7 linked regions of the Homo sapiens genome follow. The protein of the gene in region 1 purifies or fractionates together with the protein of each later gene. This does not show direct contact. Each region holds a gene or a part of one and is shown in the gene's direction. Other genes may lie near its edges. The genes, in order: HSD11B1, MANEA, CDC42SE2, GLB1L2, NHLRC3, RAB18 and DIPK1A.

What was found.
Region 2: the proteins of HSD11B1 (region 1) and MANEA purify together in Homo sapiens (affinity purification with mass spectrometry, with the first as the bait; one large-scale study listed by BioGRID). This does not show direct contact.
Region 3: the proteins of HSD11B1 (region 1) and CDC42SE2 purify together in Homo sapiens (affinity purification with mass spectrometry, with the first as the bait; one large-scale study listed by BioGRID). This does not show direct contact.
Region 4: the proteins of HSD11B1 (region 1) and GLB1L2 purify together in Homo sapiens (affinity purification with mass spectrometry, with the first as the bait; one large-scale study listed by BioGRID). This does not show direct contact.
Region 5: the proteins of HSD11B1 (region 1) and NHLRC3 purify together in Homo sapiens (affinity purification with mass spectrometry, with the first as the bait; one large-scale study listed by BioGRID). This does not show direct contact.
Region 6: the proteins of HSD11B1 (region 1) and RAB18 purify together in Homo sapiens (affinity purification with mass spectrometry, with the first as the bait; one large-scale study listed by BioGRID). This does not show direct contact.
Region 7: the proteins of HSD11B1 (region 1) and DIPK1A purify together in Homo sapiens (affinity purification with mass spectrometry, with the first as the bait; one large-scale study listed by BioGRID). This does not show direct contact.

Annotation. Positions count from the first base shown.
Region 1 is NC_000001.11:209,711,346-209,714,845, forward strand, and holds part of HSD11B1 (11-beta-hydroxysteroid dehydrogenase 1), read left to right. Parts: intron 1-3,500. UniProt on the Homo sapiens protein: Controls the reversible conversion of biologically active glucocorticoids such as cortisone to cortisol, and 11-dehydrocorticosterone to corticosterone in the presence of NADP(H).
Region 2 is NC_000006.12:95,576,346-95,580,334, forward strand, and holds the start of MANEA (glycoprotein endo-alpha-1,2-mannosidase), read left to right. Parts: upstream 1-1,189; 5' UTR 1,190-1,293; intron 1,294-1,877; exon of another isoform or gene 1,878-1,966; intron 1,967-3,989.
Region 3 is NC_000005.10:131,270,553-131,274,052, forward strand, and holds part of CDC42SE2 (CDC42 small effector protein 2), read left to right. Parts: intron 1-3,500. UniProt on the Homo sapiens protein: Probably involved in the organization of the actin cytoskeleton by acting downstream of CDC42, inducing actin filament assembly. Alters CDC42-induced cell shape changes.
Region 4 is NC_000011.10:134,345,488-134,348,987, forward strand, and holds part of GLB1L2 (beta-galactosidase-1-like protein 2 isoform b precursor), read left to right. Parts: exon of another isoform or gene 1-361; intron 362-1,837; coding exon 1,838-1,946; intron 1,947-3,500.
Region 5 is NC_000013.11:39,041,456-39,044,955, forward strand, and holds part of NHLRC3 (NHL repeat-containing protein 3 isoform a precursor), read left to right. Parts: intron 1-649; coding exon 650-850; intron 851-2,634; coding exon 2,635-2,726; intron 2,727-3,500.
Region 6 is NC_000010.11:27,507,304-27,510,803, forward strand, and holds part of RAB18 (ras-related protein Rab-18), read left to right. Parts: intron 1-2,571; coding exon 2,572-2,627; intron 2,628-3,500. UniProt on the Homo sapiens protein: The small GTPases Rab are key regulators of intracellular membrane trafficking, from the formation of transport vesicles to their fusion with membranes.
Region 7 is NC_000001.11:92,958,663-92,962,763, reverse strand, and holds the start of DIPK1A (divergent protein kinase domain 1A), read left to right. Parts: upstream 1-1,301; 5' UTR 1,302-1,334; coding exon 1,335-1,388; intron 1,389-4,101.

The DNA of each region.
Region 1 (3,500 bases):
CCCAAACTCCAGATTATGAACGGGCCTCAGAACCAGAGTGGAAAGGGGCAATTTATCCCTTGCCACAGTTGTTCTCATTTTTCTAAGAAAAAATGCCGCTTTACCCTTAAATCCAATTACCTCAGAAATAATCTTCAGGAACCAGGATTTCTGAGGTGAGTGGAAGTGTTTATCCATGTGAACGTAAGCATTTACATGAGGGATGGGGAGTGGCGATGGCTGCACAGGGTTGAGCTGTGTGTTGGGGGGATGGGTAGAAGTACGCAGAGGTGAGGTATGTGTTTGTGTAGACGTGTCATCCATAGGGCCTATAAGAATGCCAAGAAGGAGATCAGAGTAAAATCAGCAACCTGGGCATAAAAATTCCAGAAAATTTATTCTATAAAATATAATCATTGTTGTCTAAATTTAAGAGATCGTGTTTGGGCAACACTGTGAGGATTGAGACAGAATCTGCTAGATTTATCTAGGAATTCAGTTCTGCATCAGCCCCAAAAAGAAAGGAGTGGGGGAGATTTGAAAGGGAGGAAGACTCTTTGATGAAGACAGTGACAATTTAGTGCAGGTTGAGAATAATATAATGCTACCCGTAATCATTGTTGCTTCATGTTCTTTTCTGGAAAGGCTCGGCTGAACTTAGGTAGTTGAGGTTACTTATCCCTGCTAGACCACAGGTTTCATTCAAGTGCACTTGTGGATGGAAATAGCAAGGTTCTACCATCATTTGTATCTTTACGTTTCCTTACCAAGGAGTTTGAGAAGGCTTACAACAAATACATTCTATTTGGAAAAACACAAATAGAAAACTAGGTCTTAAGAAAAGGAGAATATAAATGTGCCCAAATTAGACTCAGTATAGATCCTGTGCTTAAGCTTCAATATTGGCACTTGAATTTCTTAACAATAAGAAAAAGAAAAGAAAAAGGACAAGATCAGTGTACAGCCAGCACTCTGCATGCCTGGGTTCTACATCTGTGGATTCAACCAAATGTGGATCAAAAAAAAATGGGGGGAAATAAATTAACAGAGTTCTAATAAGCAAAACTTGAATTTGCTACATGCTGGGTACTATGTTGAATTCACAGAAATGATATAAGGCATAGGCACCAAATTAGGTATTATAAGTAATCTAAAGATGATTTAAAGTACACAGGAGGATGTGCATAGGTAATATGCAAATACTACATCATTTTATATATGAGGGACTTGAGTATCTATGGATTTGGGTATCCACAGAAGATCCTGGAACCAATCCCCCTTTGAATACTGAGAGATGACTGTACTCAGAGTAGGAAAAATGCATGATTCTTATATTCATTTAATTGTTTATTTTTGTGTATTTTTTAAAGTCTAGGTCTTTATTTGTCATTTTGTCTAAGGTAATTTGGAAATATGTACCAGAAGCCTTAAGAATGTTTCCTTTGGCCAGGCGCAGTGGTTTACGCCTGTAATCCCAGCACTTTGGGAGGCCAAGGCAGACGGATCACGAGGTCAGGCATTTGAGACCAGCCTGGCCAAGATGGCAAAAGCCCGTCTCTACCAAAAATACAAAAATTAGCCGGGCGAGGTGGTGGGTGCCTGTAGTCCCAGCTACTTGGGAGGCTGAGGCAGGAGAATCGCTTGAACCTGGGAGGTGGAGGTTGCAGTGAGCCGAGATCGCACCACTGCACTCCAGACTGGGGCAATATAGTGAAACTCCATCTCAAAAAAAAAGAATGTTTCCTTTATTTCACCCAGTCTAAGTGCAAGAATATATCAAGGAAATAGCTATTAAATTAGTCACAGATTTAGGTACAAAAACATTTGTTGTAGGATTTTTTAAATTGCAAAACATTGGAAGTAACCTAAATGTCTGGCAGTAGGAAAATAACTAGTTGTACTATATATTTATATTTATATCTGTATCTGTATCCATAGCTGTATCTATATCTCTGGAAGGACATTTTCCAAAATATTAGCATGATTATATCTAAATTACAGAACAATGAATGATTTTTGTTTTTAGCTTCATATTTTTCTTCATTTTCCAAATTTTCATTGTGTGTGTATGCATGCATGTGTAACTTTTATAATCATAGAAACATTTCAATAAGTTGTTGGGTGTGTTGTTTTTTCCATTGCTTTGTGCCTCTTTTCATAACCTTTTATGAGAAATTCATTTCAGAAATTATTTGCTTCTTGCTGTGCTTCCTTCTTTTAAATATAATCATATACACACACCCTCAATTTCTTCAATGGATTGGTTCCAGGACCTCCCACAGATACCAAAATCCATGGATGCTCAAGTCCCTTGTATGAAATGGCATAGTATCTGCATATAACTTAGGCACATCCTCCTGGATACTTTAAATCCTCTCTAGATGACTTATAATACCTAATACAATGTAAATGCTATGTAAATAGCTGTTATATTGTATTATTTAAGGAATAATGACAAGATTTTAAAAGTGTGTATGTGTTCAATACAGACACAAAATTATTTCCTGAATATTTTTAACCCATGGTTGCTTAAATCCAAAGACGCAAAATCCATGGATACAGAGGGCTGCCTATATTGATTTCCATAAGTAGAAATTTGCTTAAGTACTTCAAGAGGAATGGTCAGGGAGAGAGAGCATAACTTCATGTCTGAGAAGTTTATTCTATAAACAAACTTGAACAAGTGCTTCCCAAATATACTCATTCATTCATTCATTCAAAAAATATGCATGAAGGTCAACTCTGAGTCAGGCACTATGCCAGATGCCAAGGCTATGGCAGGGAGCAAGAAGGCCAAGGCAAGATACCTGTTGTGCACCCACATTCTAGTGTAAGCCAAGTTGTTACTGTATTGTTTATAGTTGTAAAAACAAACAAACAAACAAAAACTAGAAACAACCTAAGTAGCAACAAACATAAAACAAACACTCTAAGGGATAAAAATCATGTTACAGATCTATTGGAAGGGTTTTTATTTCTTGGTATACAAAATAGTAGTATGTTTTACAACTGCTTGCCTCTGAAAGCTGTTGAAATACAGCATTTTACTCACAGTGATTAGGCTGTGCTCTCCTTAAAGGCAGGCACATTGTTCATTCATCTCTGATTCCCTGGAGCTAACAAATTTTGCAAATAATCAACACATTCTTCTTGAATGAACAAATGATAAAATAGCTTGCTAGTACCTGGATTTCTGGCTTCATGTCTTTCCTTAAACTGTGTTGGAGACTCACAGTCATATTTTCCCTCCATATTTCCTTTCTGTTTCTAGGCCTTCGTGTCAGGGCTTCTTAATAAGGATACTATTGGCCTTTGGTGAGGGACAATTCTTCATTGTGTGGGACTGTCTGATGCATTGTCGAGCATTTTTTAGCATCCTTGGCTCTGAATAATTCAATCTAAAAGCCACTCATAGAGGCCAAGCAAGATAGGCATCTTCACCGGGGAGGAAGGTGGCAGCACAGATTGAAAAACTTGAGCAGGATGGGACAGGTTTGTGTCACAGAGCAGGTTTGGGACAT
Region 2 (3,989 bases), on another chromosome or scaffold:
GCTTTAGCAAAAGGGAAAATGCAAATTAAAAGAGCAATCAGATGCTCTTATCAGCAAAAACTTAAAAAGTCTAACAATAGCATAAGGGTAACGATGTGCCAGTCTAGTTTATGGGAAATGGACTTGTATACAGACGAATCTCAAAACCTCTCAAAACCTAAATTAGTGAAAAAAGGGGAAAAATGAAGAATGATTCACATATGAAATATAAAACTAGGAAAATAGTATTTTTAGGGAATCGTACATATGTAACTATTTTCAGAAATACAACGGAATGAGTAATATAAAATTCAGCATAATGGTGAACGGAAGGAAGGAGATGTTTTTAGAGAGTCTTCTTTCTAGAAGACTCCAAAAATACTGGCATTTTTTTTTTCTTAAGCTCTGTAGTGGGTACCTGGGCATTTTTCATTCTTCTTTAAGATATGCACATGAGATATACTCATATGTATATTTCCCAATTAAAATTGGTGTACAAAATCTTTTTAAGGAGAGCCCTTATGAAACTGTTCACATCAGCAAGTTCTAGCTTGAATAAGGACTTCCTGTTACTATGTAACCAAACAAAAGATAGCATTTTCTTGTTTTCTGAAGCTAATGTAAGATGGAAACCTTCAGTTGTAATCCTATTTCAAAAGTTCTTGCTCTTCACATCTGACTTATCCTCAATTATTTCTAGTACTTCAGTACAGATGTGATTTTATAGAATACATTCGCAAATTAAAAACGCCATCTCCATCTGCCTACCTTGGGCTTCCAAGTAAAGTTCTATTTTTACAAAAATCAAAACAGTTCCTCAACTTTAAAAGTTTGAAAACCAGTGTACTTGTAAAGCACTTGATGCAAGCAACTTCTGAATGTTTCACATAAAAACAAACAAAAATGTGTCCTCTGTAATACAGTTAGAGCCTCCCAACAGAGCCTCAGAAGACCGTTTCTAAAGGCAGTGAGTTCTACTTGCAGAAATAGGGCGGGAGTGCAGTCTGACTCCAATCCACACGTCCTTCCCCTCTGACAGAACGCCCCAAAACGCAGTCCTCTCTTTCTTCCGCGCCGCTCCCGCCCTAGTCCTCTTAGACCCGCGACCGGAGGCTCCGGAAGACCCCGAGCCCCGCCCGCTCCGTGACCCCGCCCCCACCCGTCCCGCCCCTGAAAGCGCCCGGAACGCTGTGCGCGCGCCTTCGGGGAGGAGGGGCTGTCTGGGCTCGGGGCGCGGCGGCAGTCAGCTCTATGTTCGCGGTCTTAACCTCTCCTCTGGCCGAGTCCTTGCAAGAAGTGAATTACCCGACCCTGGTGAGTAGCTGCAGGAGTCAGACCTCTTGGAGGCGGCGGCGCCAGCAGCGGCGGCAGGCACGAGGTCCACCGCGGGCGCCTGCGCGCTCGCCCGCCAGCCAATCTGGTGGCCGCTTTCCTCCGGGCGCCCTTTGACCCGGCGCCCCTCTGGCAGGCGCTGGTGGCGCCCAGCGGCGAGCCTGTAGCCCCCTCGATTAACCTAGGCTGTCACTCTTAGGCCTGTTTTAGTCTGCGTTAGTTTTACTGCCTTTTACACTGCTTTATCCCCACCTCACTGGCCTCGTCGCCGCCTCCTCTTTGAAACGGTACCTCCTGTCGCCTCGGATTTTCCTTGTCTCCCCGACAAGGTGGAAATTTCGGGTCGGATGGAAGCCTTTTTCAGCACCTTCTCCTTGTGCCCCCAGACTGCCTCTGGGCCTTGAGCCGACCGGGAGAGTAGAAGGATCGAGGCCTGCTGGGCTCTGGGTGCAACGGAAAGGTAGCTGTCGCCTCTGGGCATCGGGAGGAGACCGCCCGATGGCGAGGCCGCTAGAGATGGTTTTTCAGTTCACCTGTTAACGTGTTTGGCACTGTCATCTTAGACTCTTAGCCTTTGCTAAGTCGGGATGCAACAGTGCTGGATTAGTGTTTTTGTTGTTCCTTTTTCCAAAGAAGCAACTTGAAGTACAGGCAGGTATAACTGTTTGGTTTTGTTGTTGTAAGACCCTACGGATAAGTGTTAGGAGAAAATGTGGAAGTGCTATAAAACAACAACAAGGGGGGGATAATGTTGATTAAGAACTTGAAAATAAGAAAAATGGGACTGGAATAGGCTGTTCACGTTAAAGTATTGAGGCAGTAGTTTGAAACAAAAATATAAAGTAAAACCTAGATATTGGTGATACTGTATCACGTTGTTTGCAAATCACTTTCATGACAATACATCTATTTCAGGTGTATCACACCTGAAAAAAACATGAGTGCTGTGAATTTGTGGATTTTCAGGCTCAATGCAGAAAAACACCCCCCAAAACAAAAAATCACAACAATGAAAACACCATTTCCAGAGCTGTTGCTGTTATTCGTGTGACGAATAGTGAATGTATGATCATAAAATAGAATAAGCTGTCTTTAGATGAAGTTTGGGCACAGTTTATGGAGTAGGTAACAGTTAATCATTGTTTATTAGGTACATAATCCTTAATTGAAAACATAACCATATAGCAGCAGCTTTCATCTTGTGTCACAAAAATAACTGGTGTATCCTCTAAATTTGATTTGTCTAATACCTTAAAGGAAGGCAGAATAGCATGGACAAGAACTTGAGTTCTTGAGCCAGACTCGATCTGCTCCTTGCTAGGTGATTAACCTTAGATTGGTTTCTTGGCCATTTGCTGGCCCAGAGATTTTTGAAAAAGTTACCAACTGCTCAGCTTCATCATTTGTAAAATGAGGTTAAAAAAAATTCTGCGGCCTGGCGCGGTGCCTCACGCCTGTAATCCCAGCACTTTGGGAGGCCGAAGTGGGTGGATCATGAGGTCAAGAGATCGAGACCATCCTGGCCAACCAACATGGTGAAACCCTGTCTCTACTAAAAATACAAAAATTAGCTGGGCGTCGTAGCGTGCGCCTGTAGTCCCAGCTACTCTGGAGGCTGAGGCAGGAGAATCGCTTGAACCCGGGAGGTGGAGGTTGTAGTGAGCCAAGATGGCGCCACTGCACTTCAGCATGGCAACAGAGTGAGACTCCATCTCAAAAACAAAACAAAACAAAACAAAAAACAGAAACTAAACCTCACTGAATTTCTGTTAACCAGAGGGTACAAGTGTTTACAATAAAACTGACCTGGGCAAGGATTGATTTTGAAACTGATTTTGAAAGTTCCAGATGTGTCTTCTAGTATTGAGTTATATTTATCTCCGGTGGCTTCATACAAAATAAAATTAGAAGAAAACAATATATTTTTTAAAAAAAGCACCAGAAGTCTGTGTGATTTAATTTAGTTAATTGAAAGGGAAGTCTTTTTGGCTTTTGTGAGTTACATGATAAAAGCAAATAATTTTTGAAGTACTAATTCATACCACCCTGCTTCTGAATCTCTTGGGGTCTCTTAGCTAGCTGGATATGTCCAATAATTTTTTATTAGACATCACTAAGCTTCAAGTCAGCATTTCAAAGGATTAAAAGCACAAAACTCAAAAAATAGAAGCTACAGGTTCAAAAGAACCTATTGTGTATGAGTAATGTAAACAGTCTTTTGAGGAGAAAACAGATTTTCAGTAGCCAATACTTTGAGTAGGTCCCTGCCTTGGAAAGATATATCTGCAATAAACTTGTAATATTTTCTCTATGGTGACTTATAATACTTTTCTTTTATTGAAGCTAAATTAGTTCCTCCACCCCTTTCCTGCAAGATCAGACATTTTAGGCATCTCAAGGGTCATTGTGGTTTTACAGCGTTGAAGATGATTTTTTTTATTAAATTGGATTTTTAAAATTATTGGATCTTTACGATTCTTTATAATATGTTCAGTATACACCGTAAACTTATCAAGTGTGTATACGGTCAGTAGTCTATATATACACACACACACAGATATACATATATATATATACACACACACTGCCTGAATACCAATGAAACAGCAAAGAGCCAGAAATTAACTTTTTTAAAGCTGAACACTTAATGAACACTATGTGAAAGATATGTTATGCTC
Region 3 (3,500 bases), on another chromosome or scaffold:
GTTTAATGGGTGGAACTTGGTAAGGTTTAAGCAAAATACAACTTTCACTGTGCCTTCAAAACTCTCCCTGTAGACTAAGTCTTTCTCTGCTTCTAGATGAGCTTTTAGCGTGATCAGATAGCTTTTTAAGTCACTTTTAGGTAACAAAAAGTCTTCTGGTCACTTGTCAATAATAGTTTTATTTTAGTCATTAAAAGGTACAGTATAGTAGTGTTCAAACTCTTGTAGATTTCAGAACTTTTCTTTGGCTCAAAACTGCTTTGAACCTAGAAGCTTGTTTTGGAGGAAGAGTCGTACTTAGTTGGCTTCTCTTTTTACTTTGCCAGGTCTTCTTCAGTATGGTATTCCTACCACTTCAGGATGCAGCTTAGGATTACAGAGAAAAGATATAGGGGGGAAGGTGGGGGAAGGTATAGTTTTATTGTGGCTTATCTGATTGTGATCTGGCATTTTTGCCTTCTGAGTTGGCGAGGTTGTGCAAAGCTGACTCTTTCTTCAGGAGTGCTGGAAGTGGTTGAGGATTCTATGTCTAGGAAGCTCCAGCTATAATTCCTGTGATACAGTTCTCCAGCTCCAATTTAGCCTTCCAGTTTCCTTTATCTTGCAGGTTCACTTTGCCCAGGGTGAGATTTTTCTTTAGTCTTTAAGGTAGTTCTATAACATTTTAACCAGAACTGCCCATGCTTTATTGAGGATATTTCATAGACACAATTTCATTAATTCCACTGGGGTCTCAGCATCCTGTCTTTCCAACTCCTTCCATAAAATGCAGTAGACCCTCCAAATCATCAGATTTCACATCTGAGGATTTAGCCAGCCAAGGATAAAAAGTATTTAAAAAGAAAAAACAGAACAAAAAGGGTAAAAAGCTACAGTATAACAATTATACATGGCATTTATATTTTATTAGGTATACATAGTCTAGAGATGATTTAAAGTATACAGGTGGATGTGCCTAGGTTATATGCAAATACTGTGCCATTTTATGTATGTAAGGGACTTCAGCATCTGGGGATTTGGGCCAGGGTGGGGCAGGGTTCCTGGAACCAATCACCCATGGATACCGAGGGATGGCTGTAAACGTTTCTTCAACAGTACTTCTGTATGTCTGCGATCTGTAATCCATTGCTGCCATCACCTCTTTGCTGTCCCAAGACCACCTCCTTCCATGTCCTCACTGGAGTATTTACCCTGCCTTAAATTTGTGGTCCACTATTATAATTTTGCCTTTTCATACACATTCAACTCCCTTGCGGCATTCTTCTGTTGTAATTCACCTGGCCAAACCCTTACCCCCACACCCTTTGTGTCCAGTTCTCCATCTGTTCCAGCATACATCTGGGAAGTTGAGCATGCTTTGAGGAAAACACACCCAAGCTGACCTGGCTCTCCCTTTAAATTCATGACCACTGACCTAAGGAGGGCCCTTTGTGTTGCTGGTTGTTTTTGTTTTGTTTTGTTTTGTTTTCGCTTTTTGAGATGGAGTCTCACTGTGTCACTCAGGCTAGAGTGCAGTGGCGCGATCTTGGCTCACTGCAACTTCTGCCTCCCAGGTTCAAGTGATTCTCCTGCCTCAGCCTCCCGAGTAGCTGGAATTACAGGCGCCCATCACCATGCCCGGCTGATTTTTGTATTTTTTTTTAATAGAGACAGGGTTTCACCACGTTGGACAGGCTGGTCTCGAACTCTCACTCCTGACCTCAAGTGATCCACCTGCCTTAGCCTCCCAAAATACTGAGATTACAAGCGTGAGCCACTGCACCTGGCCTAATCCTTCTGTAATCCTAGTACGTTTCCTGATTTAATCACCACAGATTACTTTTAATACCTCTCGTCAAACCTCTAGCCTCCCTTTTTTCCTCTTCATTTTCAGCTCATGACCTTGTTTCCTGTATGTTAAAAATGAAAGCGATCAGAATAAAACTTTTATACGTCTCCTTGTATCTTTACCCATACTTTGCCTTTCCTACTATTCTGTCATCATGGTCTCCACTCGTGCTCCTTTCTCCTTTTAAGGACATTGCATTGCTTCAGTATTCATCTCATTCTCCTGCATTCTAATGAGCTGCATCATTTCCCCATTTCTACTGGATTATCCCTATCAGCATATAGATGTATTGAAATATCTCCCATCTTTAAAAAAACACCTTTCCAAATGCCACATCTTCCTTTAGTTACTCCTCTCCAAAAAGGTAAATATTTGTTGTCATCCGCGCTCCCTGTCTTGTTTGGATCCACTACAATCTGCTTTTTTTCTCTTTCATTCTACCATAACAGCTCTTTTTGAGATTATTGAGTGACTTTGTTGGTGGTAAATTCCCTAGTTCTCAAGCCTAATCTCAGTGGATGTAGAAGCAATAGCAGCATTTGATGTGGTTGATAACATCATGTTTGAAATCTTCCCTTTGTTTCTGGCATATTACTGCCTGTTTTCAGTTTCTTTTGTTGGTTCCTTTTCATTGCCCCAACTTCTAAAAAATGAGGCAGTGTTTCAGGGACATATGTTTAGACCTCTTCTATATTTATATTTAGTTTTAGTCCCCTGTGATCTCATTCTGTCTAGCTAGAATTATATACATATATATATATTTTACATTTTTTTATAATTTTTTTTTTTTTTTGAGATAGAGTCTTGCTCTGTTGCCCAGGCTGGAGTGCAGTGGCGTGATCTTGGCTCACTGCAACCTCCGCCTCCTGGGTTCAAGTGATTCTCCTGTCTCAGCCTCCCGAGTACCTGGGACTACAGGCGCCCATCACCACGCCCGGCTTATTTTTGTATTTTTAGTAGAGATTGGGTTTCACCATGATGGCCAGGCTGGTCTCAAACTCTTGACTTCAAGTGATCTGCCCAGCTTGGCCTCCCAAAGTGCTGGGATTATAGGCATGAGCCACTGCGCCCAGCCTTATTTTTTTTTTTAATTAAAAAACTTTTTCTTGGCCAGGCGCGGTGGCTCATGCCTGTAATCCCAGCACTTTGGGAGGCTGAGGCAGGCAGATCACGAGGTCAGGAGATCGAGACCATCCTGGCTAACATGGTGAAACCCCGTCTCTACTAAAAATACAAAAAAAAATTAGCCAGGCGTGGCGGCTGGTGCTTGTAGTCCCAGCGACTAGGGAGGCTGAGGCAGGAGAATGGTGTGAACCCAGGAGGCGGAGCTTGCAGTGAGCCAAGATCGCACCACTGCACTCCAGCCTGGCGACAGAGACTCCGTCTCAAAAAAAAAAAAAAAAGTTTTTTTTTCTTGAGGCAGGGCCTTGCTCATCCTCCAGGCTGGAGTACAGTGGCGTGATCTTAGCTCACTGTGGCCTTGACCTCCCGGGCTCAGGTGATCCTCCTACCTTAGTCTTCCAAGTAGCTGGGACCACAGGTATGTGCCACCACATCCGGCTAGTTTTTTGTATTTTTATAGAGATGGGTTTTCATCATGTTGCCCAGGCTGGTCTTGGGCTCAAGTGATCTGCCTGCCTGGGCCCCCCAAAGTGCTGGGACTACAGGCGTG
Region 4 (3,500 bases), on another chromosome or scaffold:
TGAGACAGAGTCTTGCTCTGGCACTCAGGCTGGAGTGCAGTGGTGTGATCTTGGCTTACTGCAACCTCCGCCTCCCGGGTTCAAGCGATTCTCCTGCCTCAGCCTCCCGAGTAGCTAGGGTTACAGGTGTGTGCCACCACGCGCAGCTAATTTTTGTATTTTTAGTAAAGACAGGGTTTCACCATGTTGGCTAGGCTGGTCTGGAACTCCTGACCTTGTGATCTGCCCACCTCGGCCTCCCAAAGTGCTGGGATTACAGGCATGAGCCACCGCGCCCGGCCTTCCCTATCTCTTTCTTAGGAATGTTACCAAGCATATTTTGAAAAGTCCAAGTATTTTGATAAAGTATAAGAGAAACAAATTCTTGTTATGGTTTTGTCTTCCTATCTCGGCCCACGTGTGTCATCTTCCCAGTGCTAGTCTTGGCTGAGTTTGGTGTTCTGTGGTTGGAGTGGAAATCTGGACAGGAATCAGCTGGGACTTCATTCATTCCTCATCCTCAACATTGTGGCCTTTAAGATTTTCTTGTTAACTGGTGTAACCTTTCTCAGCCTCCCAGTGTACCAGGTGGTTAGACCCAGACTGCCTCAGGGAAGAGGCTGATCCTTGTCCCCAAGCCGTCTCCCCTCCCCTGGTCCCTGGGGAGCCCTGGGCTTCTTTTCCTCCTGGTTTCCAGCATGACCCGCCCTTCCCTCGGGGGCATAGCTTCTGTCTCCACTACCCAGGGCCACTTCTCAGGCACTGATCCATCCAGCCTGGTAGGCTCACCCTAGTCACGAACACAGCCAGGGCAGCCTCTCCCATCCCTGTGGATTAGAAAGCTGTGTGCCACCGTCAGCGATTTCCTCGGCTCAGCCGGGGCCGGGCACAGGAGGACGAAGGGTTTAACAGTCTTAACTTAGAAGCAGTGGGGAGCTGTGGCACTCAGACTCCCCCTTCTCACCCCGCCCATGTGGCACCTGGCCATGCATGAGAGGGGCATGTGGGCACACCTGCGGAGGGGGCGTCCGGGCGTGAGTGAGAAGGCTAACCTGTCAGGTGGGGTTAGAATGTGGGGGTGTCGGTCTGGAGGAAACTGCTCTCTCCTCACCCCTTGTTTGACCCACAGAAATGGGATAATTTCCTGACCCTGTTTAGGACTTCCAGACCAGGGCAAGAGGAGCCTCAGAGCCTTTTGTTAGAAAATATGTGTCTTCTCAGAACCTGAAGTGAGAAGGAAGAGCCCTGACTCCAGCTTTGGAACCAATCCACGCTGCTGTGTTCCTCTGGGGAGTTTGGGATCATAGCAACAGGGTGGAGGGAGAATTCAACTCTTGCTCACCTGCTGCTCTGGGCTGTGCGCCACTGATGCCAAGGCGTTAGCCACGTTGGCAAGGATGGGGACTGCCTCCTGCTCAGCCCCTCGCAGTCTCTGTCAGGCTTGTTTTTTGGGGTGACGCTAGAAGGTTGTGTCTCCTCCTTCCACAGCCTCAGTGATTCCTAACCCTTTTGACTTCACTTTTTGAAATGGGATCACAGAGCAAGTTGTTGAAAACTAGGCCTGGAGTCCTGTGAAAAGCTTTTCTCACTGCTGGCAGCCAGGCCCTGTAGCTGTGGAGCTGGAAATGAACTTCCACCAGGCTGTGTCCTTGGGGAGGGAAGCTGCAGGAGTGCGGGTGGGTGCTCGCCCCAGAATCGGTTTGCATTGTCTCCCCACTTCTGGGCTCAGTGGGGTGGAGGAGGGCACAGGTCATTCTGGAGCACTGGGGGGCCTCTCCCTTCTCACGCATCAACAGCCTGCTCACAGCAAACCCACTGTGACACTAACATCCTTCCTTTCCCCCGTTTACACTTCAAGCTGGCTACTCCAAGACCCTGGCATGAGGCTGAGGACAACTTACAAGGGCTTCACCGAAGCAGTGGACCTTTATTTTGACCACCTGATGTCCAGGGTGGTGCCACTCCAGGTACAAGCAAATGGGGTCTTCTTTGATCTTGGTCTGTCTTCCTCTAGGTCGTGGATCATCCTTGGTTAGTTCTCAGACCAAGGGTCCTCCAGTGTTTTGAACACACGAGCAGGCTCTTCCTCACCGTCCGAGACTCGTAACTGAGGGGCTTGCAAGAGTTGTCTTTGGAAAGATCTGTGCATTTCAGTGTTGTCTCACTTGGGTGCGTTACTGAAAGGACAGACAGATGTAAGGGCTCACATTGCCACATACAGCACTGGAGAGACAGGGATGCTGTGATAGCCGGGAACACGCATCCACTGGCATCTCCATGGTTCCACAGAGACAGGGATGAGGTGATAGCCGGGAACACCCATCTATCTACCAGTGTCCCAGTAGCACTGCGGCTCAGTTTTGCACAGGGTGGAGCACATGTGGATTAACCTTTGCCTATAAGACTGCAGGACTTTTTATAAATTATAAAATTCCTTTCGCTGACTTTACGAGATACTTCCCTCTGCTACCAAAAAGGTGCTGCATGGTACACACTTACTATTCAAAACATGCGTTAAAGTACGTTTTGGGGGAGGAAGTACCTTAATATTTTATATAATAATTGGAAGCTTTGGAAAGCAGGAATGGGAAAAATCAACCCAGTTGCTGTGTAAAACCAGAAAGAACGGCATTGAGAAATTAGTACATCAATAAAAAATTAGTTCAAGTCAGTGGTATGGAATACTCACCACACACATAAATCAAAGGGAACTGCCAGATGAAACACAGGATGCTCAGTTATATTTGAGTTTCAGATAAGCAAGGAATAATTTTTTAGTGTAAATATATTCCAAATATTGCATGGGTCATACTTACACTAAAAAATTATTTGTTGTGAATTCAAATTTAACTTTATGTCTGGTATTTTTGTTTACTAAATCCGGCAGCCTTAACCATGACAGAAGCAAGGAACTAGGAAGTCATTAGCCTAGATCTTGCTGGGAAGCTGGGGATCAGCAGGTTGTAGGAGTCGGGTGGGCAGCAGGATGGCCGTCCTGGGAGCAGGCTCAGAGGCACTTGCAGACGTGCAGCGGGTCACCAATGCATCTTTTTGAAATAAACGATAACATAATTATTATTATTTAACATATTTAAATAATCACATAGTTATTTAATTTTTGTGACTATGGGATAGTATACATAACATAAACTTTGCCATTTTAACCATTTTGAAATGTACAGCTCAGCGGCATTGAGTCCACCCACACTGTTGTGTGCTCATCTCCACAGCCTTAGTTCAGGCTGCCACAACCAAACACCTAGACTGAGTGGCTTACAGACAAAGAAATTCATTTCTCCCAGTTTTGGAGAGTGGGAAGTCCAAGAACAAAGCACTGGCAGATTCGGTGTCTGGAAGGGCCCCCTTCCAGGGCATATACGGCCATCTTCTTGATGCAACCTTACATGGCAGAGAGCGTCAGAGAGCTCCCTGAGGTCCCTCTTATAAGAGCACTAGCCCTGTTGGCAAGGACTCTATGCTCATAACTAATCACCACCCAAAAGTCCCACCTCTGAATACCG
Region 5 (3,500 bases), on another chromosome or scaffold:
TTTATGATATTCCCTTATTAGTAGTCTGCTTTATGCTCTTGCTTGTAAGATAATTTTAACTTAAAGAAATTTTAACGTGAGAAAATAAGATACTCATGATTTACAAAGATTATTTTCTTCTTAGCAAAGAAAAGTTGGGTTGAATTTTGAATGTCTCCACAAGGTGAAAATGCAGTTAAAAAAAAAATCTGTACCATAGAGAACGTTTTTGTTGACTTACTGAAATTTAAGGTCTGTATGTGAGTGATTGAAATAACAGTTTCAAATATAAGTTGTTCCCTTTACATTTTCTTCTTGATTTCCTTTCATAAGCAATGCTTATTCAAGGTCATAAGATTAAAAAAGAAAATGGTGCACCAATACTTTGTTAGCATTCTGAGTTTCCTGTATAATGAGTCAATTATGGGGATGTTATTTATTTGAATTTAGAATCCGCTTATTTTGGACTAATGGAGATTTTAATTCGTGATCAAATTTGGCTGTAATTTACGAAGAAGCTATAGTGCTTGTCAATTATATGTAATTTCCTAAGCCTATCACCTATTTGTTATTATTTACTTCTATCAAATTTTTGCTCTTAGCTTACTTGAAAAATCTGAATGTTTGTATAGTGGTTTTATTTGTGAGATGTACATATCTATCTTTATAGGATTCTTTGGTCATACTGTTAAAAAATACAGTTCTTTTGGTGATCTTGTTCAAGTCTTGGGTACTCCAGGCAAAAAAGGCACTAGTTTGAATCCTTTGCAGTTTGATAACCCAGCAGAATTATATGTAGAGGACACAGGAGATATTTACATTGTGGATGGAGATGGAGGATTGAATAACAGATTGATCAAACTGTCCCAAGGTACATTACTTGTTTATGGTATTATAAAAATATTATAAATTGATTTTAATTTGTTCGATATTTGGTATAATGTTTTAAGTGTTGTGTATGAAGCGGTGTGTAAAGAGCTAAGTGTATTACTACGAGAAAACTGAAAAACAGATGGGTATGATTGCCCACAATAAATGATCCTGATAACAGGCCCACTTATTCTTCACCAAAGGCCAGGAGATTCCTCCAAAAGTAACTGGCAACAGTATGAGAATTTCTAGTGGGCTCAGGAGATAAGTGTGTATCCTATTTAATTAAGCATGTAGAAATTAGAAACCTAGAATCCCAGACTCAAGTATCCTACAGGCTGATTAATCAGCAAGCATTTTATTGAGTGCCCTTTCTGTGTCCTCTCTAGTATCAGGAGGTGCAGATCTATTATGTATTGAAACAATGAAATGTAGTCTATGCTATTGATTCTTAAAGCAAAATGGACTTAGGAGGAGAAACTAAATTGCCTGGAGAAATAGAACAAGATATCATGAAGGAAGTAGTTATTGAACTAAACTAGTTTTGGTGGGAGGAGAGGGGAGGATGGATGGAACATTCATGGAGGGTTTATCATGCATGGTCTACAGGCATTTATTAGCAGGAAAGAAGGTGAAGATGCACTTTTTCAGCAGCAGAAAATACAATTTGGGATGTTTCTGAAGTCTTATTTGAGGATTATTAAAGCCATGTTTTTGCCTATAACATTTTTGAGGTTTTCCTAGTAGAAAAGTGATGTTACAACAGCAGGTTTTATAAGACATTCTTTTAGGATCTACTTCAAGTGAGCTCTGTCATTTGGAGGCTGTGTAGTCAATTTATCAATTAGTAACTGAATTTGGTTGATAACAGTTGAAAGGGAAATGTAGAATAAGGATAAAGCAAGAATCCAAAAAATTGAATGAAAGAAACAACGAAATCTAGGAGACAGATTGAATATAAGTGTATTAGTTTCCTGTGGTTGCCATAACAAATTGCCACAAACTGCGTGGCTTTAAACAACATAAATTTATTCTCACAGTTTTGGAATCCAGAAGTTAGAAATCTGGTAGACTGTGCTCACTCTAAAGGTCCTGCCTTGCCGCTTCTAGTTTCTGGTGGCTCAAGCATTCCTTGGCTTGTGGCAGCAAAACTCTGATGTCTGTCTCCATATTCACATGGCGGCCCCTTCTTCTCTGTGTGTTTTTGTGCCTCCAGTCTTTCCCTTCTTTCTCTTAATAAGGATTTAGGGCCCACCCTAAATCCAGGATGATCTCATGAGATCCCTAATTTAATTTTATCTGCAAAAACTATTTCCAAATAGCATCACATTCCCAGGTATCAGGAGTTAGGACTTGGACATCTTTTTAAAGGACCACAGTTGAACCCACCGTAGTGCGTAATAAAGGAGATAGACGGTAAAATCATAATGTGAATTTTTAAGGTCTGTGGAATACTAATATCAAGTAACAGATAAGTTGGGAAGGGGAACCAGTTTTAGGGAGAGGATGGCATAAACCCTAAACAATGATTTTGAAGCAGTCATGAAAAATTCAAGTGGAGATAATAATTAAAGAAGTAGATTAATTCCCTAAAGCAGAGAAGGAACTTTAAAAAAAAAACTGTAAGAAATGGGCAAATGGGCATATAGACAGGAAAGCCGAGAAAGCATAGTCAAGTGAACCAGCGGTGTAATTAAATAGTTCTTTGTAACCTGTTTCATAAAATATGCAAATGCATGAGACATTCTATATGTTGCTCTGACTATATATTTTTACCGTTTATAGATTTCATGATCCTTTGGCTGCATGGAGAAAATGGGACAGGGCCTGCTAAGTTCAACATACCTCACAGTGTTACACTTGATTCAGCTGGTCGGGTACAAATACAGCGTCATTGTGTCTGGGACTTTGTGTCTGAATATGTTTGTGTGTGTGTGTGTGTGTGTGTGTGTGTGTGTGTGTGTCTGGGCATGTATATATAGATTGTGGTATACATGTGTGTCTGGGCATGTGGATACATGTGTGTTAGTGGGTATGTCTGGGTAATTACTCTGGGGCTGGGTGTGCACACATACTTTCTTACAAGTGTTTGAGTCCTATAGTGAGGGGGTTCCCCAAACATTTAGAAAGGAGCAAAATGGATTTCCTGTACCATTTAAAAGGATAGAAGGCACAAATAATGGATCTGAACATAAAGTTACCTGAAAGAAAAAGTTGCCCTCTTACTGGGAAAACTCCACTAAAAGTGTTTGAATATCTTTTCACTTCTCAAGAAAAAAATGTGCTGATCTAAAGTGGAGTGGGAGAGGTTAACCTTGGAAGTCTGAAAAAGAGTCACCTAGGCAAACTCTTGTTCTCACTAACTCCACATTGTTTAGGGAACAGAAAGCTTTAGCCAACAAATTTCAATCAGTTTCTCTCTTTTCTACCCTACTCACTACTATCTCTTTTGCATTTACTCAATTTCTAAGCATAGATCTCACTTCTTTGAGGTTACCTTTTCACAACGAAACCGCCACCAAAAAATTTGTATATTAGTTTCTCCTGCTCTTTTCCTATAGCAGCCTGTACTTCGTATCATAGTAACTATCATGCTATATTATAATCATTTGTCTGTCTCCCCTAATAGATGTCAGGCTGTTGAAAGTGCT
Region 6 (3,500 bases), on another chromosome or scaffold:
ATCAGGATTATGAAACTGGGGCTGCCACTTGTGTGACCTTGTGTGTGATACTTGAATGCTGTAGGCCTTCATTTCAAAAGCGAGGGGGTTGGAATAGAAACCTCTCAGACCCTAAATGTGTAAGACTCCAATTCTGTGGCTAGGCCTGGTAAGGTAAAGAGTAGCAGAATATATCAAGAACTGGAAGGGATTAGAGAGACCTATTATCTAAATTGCTGTCCCTCCTTTGCCCCTTGCCTTCCCTTTTTTTTTTTTTTTTGGTGAATTTCATATGTAAATTTAAAAAATGCAGATTAGTTATAATCACACTCTGTTTATTATAAATTTGGTCACATCTAAGTGCCATGGTGGTAGTTACTCCTTCCATCTCTACTTCTGCATGGGAAACATTTTGCTCCTTTAACTTTGAAAATATGAGGGTGTAAATATACAATACTATAAGAATGGTGCTTCTGCCAGGTGCAGTGGCTCATCCTGTAATCCTAGCTACTCGGGAGGCTGAGACAGGAGGATCTCTTGAGGCCAGGAGTCCGAGACCAGCTTGGGCAACATAACGAGACCATGCCTCTAAAAAAATAAAAATAAAAAAATTAGCCGGCCATGGTGATGCACACCTGTCATGCCAGTTACTTGGGGGGCTAAGGTGGGAGGATTAGTGAGCTGTGATTCTGCCACTGCATTCCAGCCTGGGTGACAGAGTGAGACCCTCTCTCTTAAAAAAAAAAAAAAAAAAGTGTGCTTCTTAATTATTTTGAGATTGTCAGTTCTTTTCAAAATCTAATAGAGAAATGGACTCTCTGTCCCTTTCAAAGTCTAATAGAGAAATGGACTCTCTGCCTAGAAAAATGCACACATAGAATTTAGAATACTTTTTGGGCTACCAGGGTACCCCTGTCTAAGATCTGATGTATACCCAGAGCCTGTATTAAAATTTGTTGCTTCACACCATGCCACCAATTCCCTGCCTCTCCTTACAAAGTACTGTTAATAACAAAGGCCATTTAAGGATTAGCAATTATGAGAGAAAAACCTCTGGCTTTGTGTCTGCACATTGCCATATGTTCAATAAATAATACCCAATATCATCATTATTGTATTATTATTATGATATTATTACAACTAGTCTACAAGGTAATCTTATGTTTTTGTAGTAATATTTTCTGTGGTGACCACGTGTAGATATTATGTATCTTTTCTTAAATTATGGGTAACTGAGTATGTTGGGAGAGAAGAAAAATTTTATAGGTAGTCTTTAAGAGTCTTACTAGTATTGTTACCTATGTTCCAAGTAACTAAATATAGTCAAGATGTTAAGTAGATAAATCTAGAATTTGACTCTTCTTTTTTACTTTGATTTTATGATGCTGGTTTTATGGTAAACACAAGAAAACAAAACCAAGTAAGGGAGAGTTAATCGTTCAAATATATTTAATGACACTGGGTTTGGAAACTACCAGGAGGCCATTATGTTTTGCAGAAACTCTATGGACAAAACATACCTCTACCAGCAATAATCACAACCTATAGAAAGAGTCATAAGATTTTTCTATAATTTAGATATCTGATGGCTGTTTCTTTGATTTTATTCATGCAAACAGGTCAATTAGGAGAGTCTTATACTTCAGAAGTTAACATGAGGGAAGATTGAATGACTTTAAAATCAAGGGCTTTAACAAAAGCTTAGATTTTATTTTTGAAGAGTTTCTAATAACTGACACTTCTGCTTCATAGTAAGTAAAATAATTCTGGAAGATGTAAAATCTTAGAGTACCCTTCTAATCTGGTGTCTTTTGCTTTTATCCTTTCTTTCTAGTTTCTTACCATTTCCTAGGTTTAGTCCTTTGTTCTCTCTTGCCATAACCATGGCGGTTGTCTTCCATTGATTTTCTTCCATTTTTTGTTAGTATTAACTTTTCAAAACAAAGAGCAGTACTTGTCTTAACTTTCTTTAAAAGCCTCCAGTAGCCTCCAGTTGCCTACTTGGTTTTACACACTCTACCTAGTGTTTGCCCGAGTCTATCTACTCTGTCCTGTGATCTTTCTTTTAACCTCTCTTTTTACTGTATCTTCTCTTAGGTAGTAGCCGTACTGCGTGTTACAGAATGCTCGGCTTTGATATATTTCTGGTTTTGCTTGAATTCAGAGTGGATTACACAATCAGATTTTTTAAAGCTAGTTTGTTGCATTCTAAGAGACTTTATTTTTTCCCTTTTCATCTATGTCAGTTAAAGCATGACATGCTGCTAATATCATTTTCTCAGAAGGACATACCAGAACAGTTAAAAAACAACTACAACAAAAACCCCCACCTTTTGTACTTGGGGGATTGTGTAGGAGAGCACGGGGAATATATTTCATAGTAAACTACTTTGCTCTTGGGATTTTTAAATTGCCTTTCTGGTAATTTAATTTTTCTGTGTATACCTGCTCTGAGGCAGTATTCCTAGGAACAGGCCTACATCAGTTATTTTTATCTGCATCTAATAATTTGTGACCAAATAATCATGAACACATTTATCATATGATTAGAAAATTCAAGTTCCCAACCTGTCTTTTTAATATCTCTTTCAGCCTGCTCTTGAGGTTCACAGATGATACGTTTGATCCAGAACTTGCAGCAACAATAGGTAAGCCTGTGTTTAAAAATTCTATAGAAATGGCCAGTATTTTCTTGCCTTTGGCCTTTTTAATCTAAATCCTTCTACCTTCCTCTCACCACCCCACTGCCTCCATGTCTGTTGAAATCTTATTTGTCCTTCAAGACTTAATTTTGGTATCATTAAATCTTTGAAGCCTTTCTAGATCTTACCAAGAGAAAATAACTTCCTTATCTGTTGTCTCATGATACTTTATTAAAACTGCTAATGTGATTATCTGTACACACATTTCTCTCCTATACTATGGATTGTCTTTTATTTTGTAATATACAACAGTTATTTGAATACTTATTGTATGCCAGGGACTGCTACTAAGAGGAGGGGTTATAATAGTGAATAACAAACTTGGTCTCTGTCATCGTGGACCTAACAGAGTGTGTTAATTTTGTATGTTCAGCATTTGCTACAGTGTTTGACGTGTATTCTTATCTTCACATATGTATTGATACTAGTTATTAAGGATTGTTAGGAGCAATGATACTTAAATGCCTTTTAAGGATAAGATTTAGATCGCCTGAAAGTGGTTAGTCACACTAACTTATGAGAATATATGAGAAGATAGAGGTAAGTATTTTGGTATCATGTGTTTAGACTGCAGACAACGTAAAGGGATGAAGAGACCACTTGGAATAGTTGAAAGGTAGCTGAGCTGAGTCAGAGCTAGATAATAGTCTTGGTTGACTTTGCCTTGAATTACATGTAATCTTGATGAAGTCACTTAACTTACTAACTTCATCTGTAAATTGGGAGGTTTTGTTAAAATTTCATGATCTGATGAGGAGAATATAGTAAAGATGATCCTAGCATTATTGTTAGGGAAAATAAAGAGTTTCTGTTAACTGG
Region 7 (4,101 bases), about 120 Mb from region 1:
TTTAAAACCTGTGTCTGTGTGTGGGTTGAGGGAAGGGGCAGACATGAAGGTATCTCTTCAGAACAAGGCACCTGAACAAGGCTTATGCAAAAACCAAGTGAGAATGAGTAATGGTTTGCTTCTGGGGAAACCCCTTCTCAGAGCAACAGGCCGGAATGAGCTCTAACGGGCCACCTAAACTTTGTTAGCATCACGCTTAAACGTGGTAGGTGGGGTAAAAAGCAGCCAAAAAAAAAAAAAAAAAAAAAAAAGCTGCTTCTTCCATTACAAGTCACTTGGATCAACAGCTGTTCTCCCACTAGGGTGGCTCTTTTTTCCCTTATTTGGAACTCATTGTCAAAAGAAAGACACCACACCCTGTGTTATGTAGCCTTAACCAAGCAGCAGGCCACGTCCCAGGCTCCCTGCCTTCAGGACTGTATTTAATTCGGTGTTTTTGTTTTTGTTTTCTTTTGAAATCAGTGTTCCTGGACGGGGCCAGGAAAACTCTGAAGCTGTCTTAAAAACAATATAAACCAAAAAAGTCGGAATTTTTTAAAAGTACATTTTTAAAAAAAGTTGTAGGCCGTTAGAGGCGAACTGGAGCGTGGTAAGGGGGGCACCGAGTTCAGCAGTGGGGCGCCCTGTCCGCGTTCGAAGCTGAGCCCAGTCCTGGGGGGATGCCCCGGTCTGCGTCTCCAGCTGCGGCAGACACCCCCTTCCCCCGACCGCCACCAAGGGCGAGGGAGGACGAGCCAGTCCCCAGGGAAGGAGCCCCAAGCTTCCCTTGAATTTCCAAACAACCCGTCCAGACACGTCCTGACTCCAGGAGAAGAGTCCATGGGGAGCGTCGGTGCTGCCGGGGCGGGTGGCGGGACGCGCAGCTGGGCGCAGCGCGGGGAGCCGGAAGCCGGAGCAGACTGCGAGGCCAGCGCGGTCCGGGGGTCGCCGCATCAGCCAGCGAGAAGCACGCCCCAATCCGCGCCGAGCGTGCGACACCCCCGCTGCCGCGGCGCCCCCTCCCGCCTCCGCGCGCCTCCCCTTTAAGCTCCAGGCGCAGTCGATTTGTGTCGGCGGAGGCGAGGTGCGACTCCCCTTTATGGCGGAGTCGGCAGCAGCCTCTCTGACAGCCGCGGCGGCCGGCGGGCGAACAGGGCAGGAGGCTGGGCCTCTGGCCTCTCGCCGCCTTCACTGCAGCCGGGCCGAGGGGAGCGCGGCGCGCGCCGCGGCGGGGGCGGGGGAGTGGGCGGGCCCGGCCGGGCAGGGGGCGGGGAGGCGGGGGGAGGCGGGGAGCCCGGCCGCCAGCGCTCGGGTCCGCCTCTGACTGCAGCGCGGCGGGGCGATGTGTGATTACCATGGCGAGGAGTCTCTGTCCGGGGGCCTGGCTAAGGAAACCCTATTACCTCCAGGTAGGCCGGCGGCCGCCCAGCCACCAGCTGCGGGAGCACCCGGCCGTGTGCCCTGCCGCGCCGCGCAGGACTCGCCCGCTCCCCTCCTCCCTCCCTGGGTCTGTGCCCGCCCGAACCCCGCTGCCCCCTGCCGTCCGGCACCTGGCGGCGCGCCCTCCCCAGCCCCCTCAGCGGCTCTGCCGACGCCCCCCACCGCGGCCCTCGCGGCTCCCGCGCCGCGGCCAGCCGGGCTCCAGGGCCCGAGTCGTCCCGCCCGGGTACGCCCTCGCATCCTGAGAGCCCCGAGACGTGACCTGGGTACGACCCCGCGCTCCGGGCATTGCCCGCAGCCCTGCGCCGCTCCAGGCGGAGCTCGACGGGCCGCCTTCTCCCTGGTGTTTTCGGGGCTTTCCCCCCTCCCCCGTGGGCCCCCGCAGGTCGGTTGCCCTTGACTCAGTGTCTTGGGTCTTAAGTCGGTGGTAGGAAAGGTGGTGTAGCATTCCTCCGTGTCTTAGAAAATTATGACAATTTGTCACACCAGTGTTTCCCCAGGCTCCAAAAAGCAGCGTGTGCCTCGTGCCGAGCCCCTTGGTTGGGTCGTTCCATCACACCCAAGATTTAAATGGGAGGTGGAGACCGATAAGCCTGAACCAGGCGGATGGGTGTTTGCTTTTTAAAGGAAAGGGGCTAGTGGCTGGTCTGTGGATCCCAAATACCCTAGTAATGCAAACGTAATTCTCAGTCATGTCGTGTGTACGGTTCGCGTGTTAATTTTTCATGATTTCCCGTTCCACCCTCTGTTCCGCTGCCAGTCTGTGCCTTGGAACCCTACTACTGCCTAAGTGTACTGTTTGGTCACCAGGGGGACCTAGTAGACACCGCGAGTAGCTGAGCGCAAATCCATCACTCCGATGGAAAAACAACTACAAATCAATGCCTTGCGTGGGTCAGCAGTGTTAGCCAACGCTGCATTCAGAGGACAGTATTCCTTTACCGCTTACATTAAAAGGCCAAGAGGTAGATGATTTGGGGTCAGCTGGTGCTTTTATAAATTATGAAAAAAGTTGAGAAGGTAACCATCATGAGGCAAGTAAATCTTACATTTTTGTTTGAAAATTGTATGTGTAAGTCATTACCCTGAAATGAGTGACGTATTGCAAATTGGAAGCATGATTTGACAACCCATGATATTAAGCGTGTACGAATAAAACTGAGTCTTTGTAGCAAGCACCACCAATAGTAATTGTGCACTTGAGTAACACTGTCACAACCCCTTCTAGAATTCAACCCAGGCCAGGTACCTCTGTGTAATCTTTTATGTGAGTTTAAAAAAAAGCTTACCGGCCAGGCGCGATGGCTCACACGTGTAATCCCGGCACTTGGGAGGCCGAGGCGGGCTGATTCCTTGAGCTCTGGAGTTTGAGACCAGCCTGGGCAACATTGTGAAACCCCGCCTCTACTAAAAATACAAAAAAAAAAAAAAAAAAAAAAAAGTTGGTTGGGTGCCTGTGGTCCCAGCTACTCCGGGAGGCTGAAGTGGGAGTATGGCTTGAGCCCCGGAGCGGAGATTGCAGTGAGCTGAGATCACGCCACTGCACTCCAGCCTGGGCAACAGAGTGAGACCTTGCCTCTTAAAAACAAAAACAAAAACAAAAAAACGGCCAGGCGCAGTGGCTCATGCACTTTGGGAGGCCGAGGCGGGCGGATCACGAGGTCAGGAGATCGAGACCATCCTGGCTAACACGGTGAAACCCCGTCTCTACTAAAAATACAAAATATTAGCCGGGCGTGGTGGCGGGCGCCTGTAGTCCCAGCTACTCGGGAGGCTGAGGCAGGAGAATGGCGTGAACTTGGGAGGCAGAGCTTGTGGTGAGCCGTGATCGTGCCACTGCATTCCAGCCTGGGCGACAGAGTGCGACTCCGTCTCAAAAAAAAAAAAAAAAAAAAAGTGTTTTACTGTGGAAATTTGTATACCTTCAGAAAACAGAAAACAATAATGAACTGTCATATGCCCATCAGCCACCCTCATCAGTATTTTATTTCATTTCACCTCCCCCACTCCCTCTTCCAACCAAACTTATTTATTTATTTATTCATTTATTTATTTATTTAGAGACGGGTCTCCTTCTGTTGCCCAGGCTGGAGTGCAGTGGTGCCATCTGGGCTCACTGCAGCCTGGACTTTCCAGGCTCAGGTAATCCTTTCACCTCAGCCTCCTGAGAAGCTGGGACTACAGGCGCACACCACCATGCCCAGCTAATTTTTTTAATTTTTGTAGACACGGAGTTTCGCCGTGTTGCCCAGGCTAGTCTCAAACTCCTGGGCTCAAGCAGTCCTCCTGCCTTGACCTCCCAAAGTGATGGGATTACAGGCATGAGCCATCAAGCCTGGCTGAACCAAAGTATTTTAAAGTAAACCTCAGGCATCACATCATTTCATCTCAGTACCTCAATATACATTTCTAATAGATAAAGATATTTTCAGACATAATCATAATACCATTATCATGCCTAACAAAGTTAATAACAATTTATTTTTCCCACCCCTTTCTAGATATGCATCAACCTGAGATTACTAACTAAATTTGATTTGCCATGGAGTGAGTTTACTGTGATTTGGATGGGTCTCTCTGCAAAAAGCAAAACAAAAAACCCTCCTCTTATCAGCTCATTCATGCCACAAATTCTTATGAGGGAAACTAGTTTGATTTCATGTTTTGAAAGAATGTCTTAGA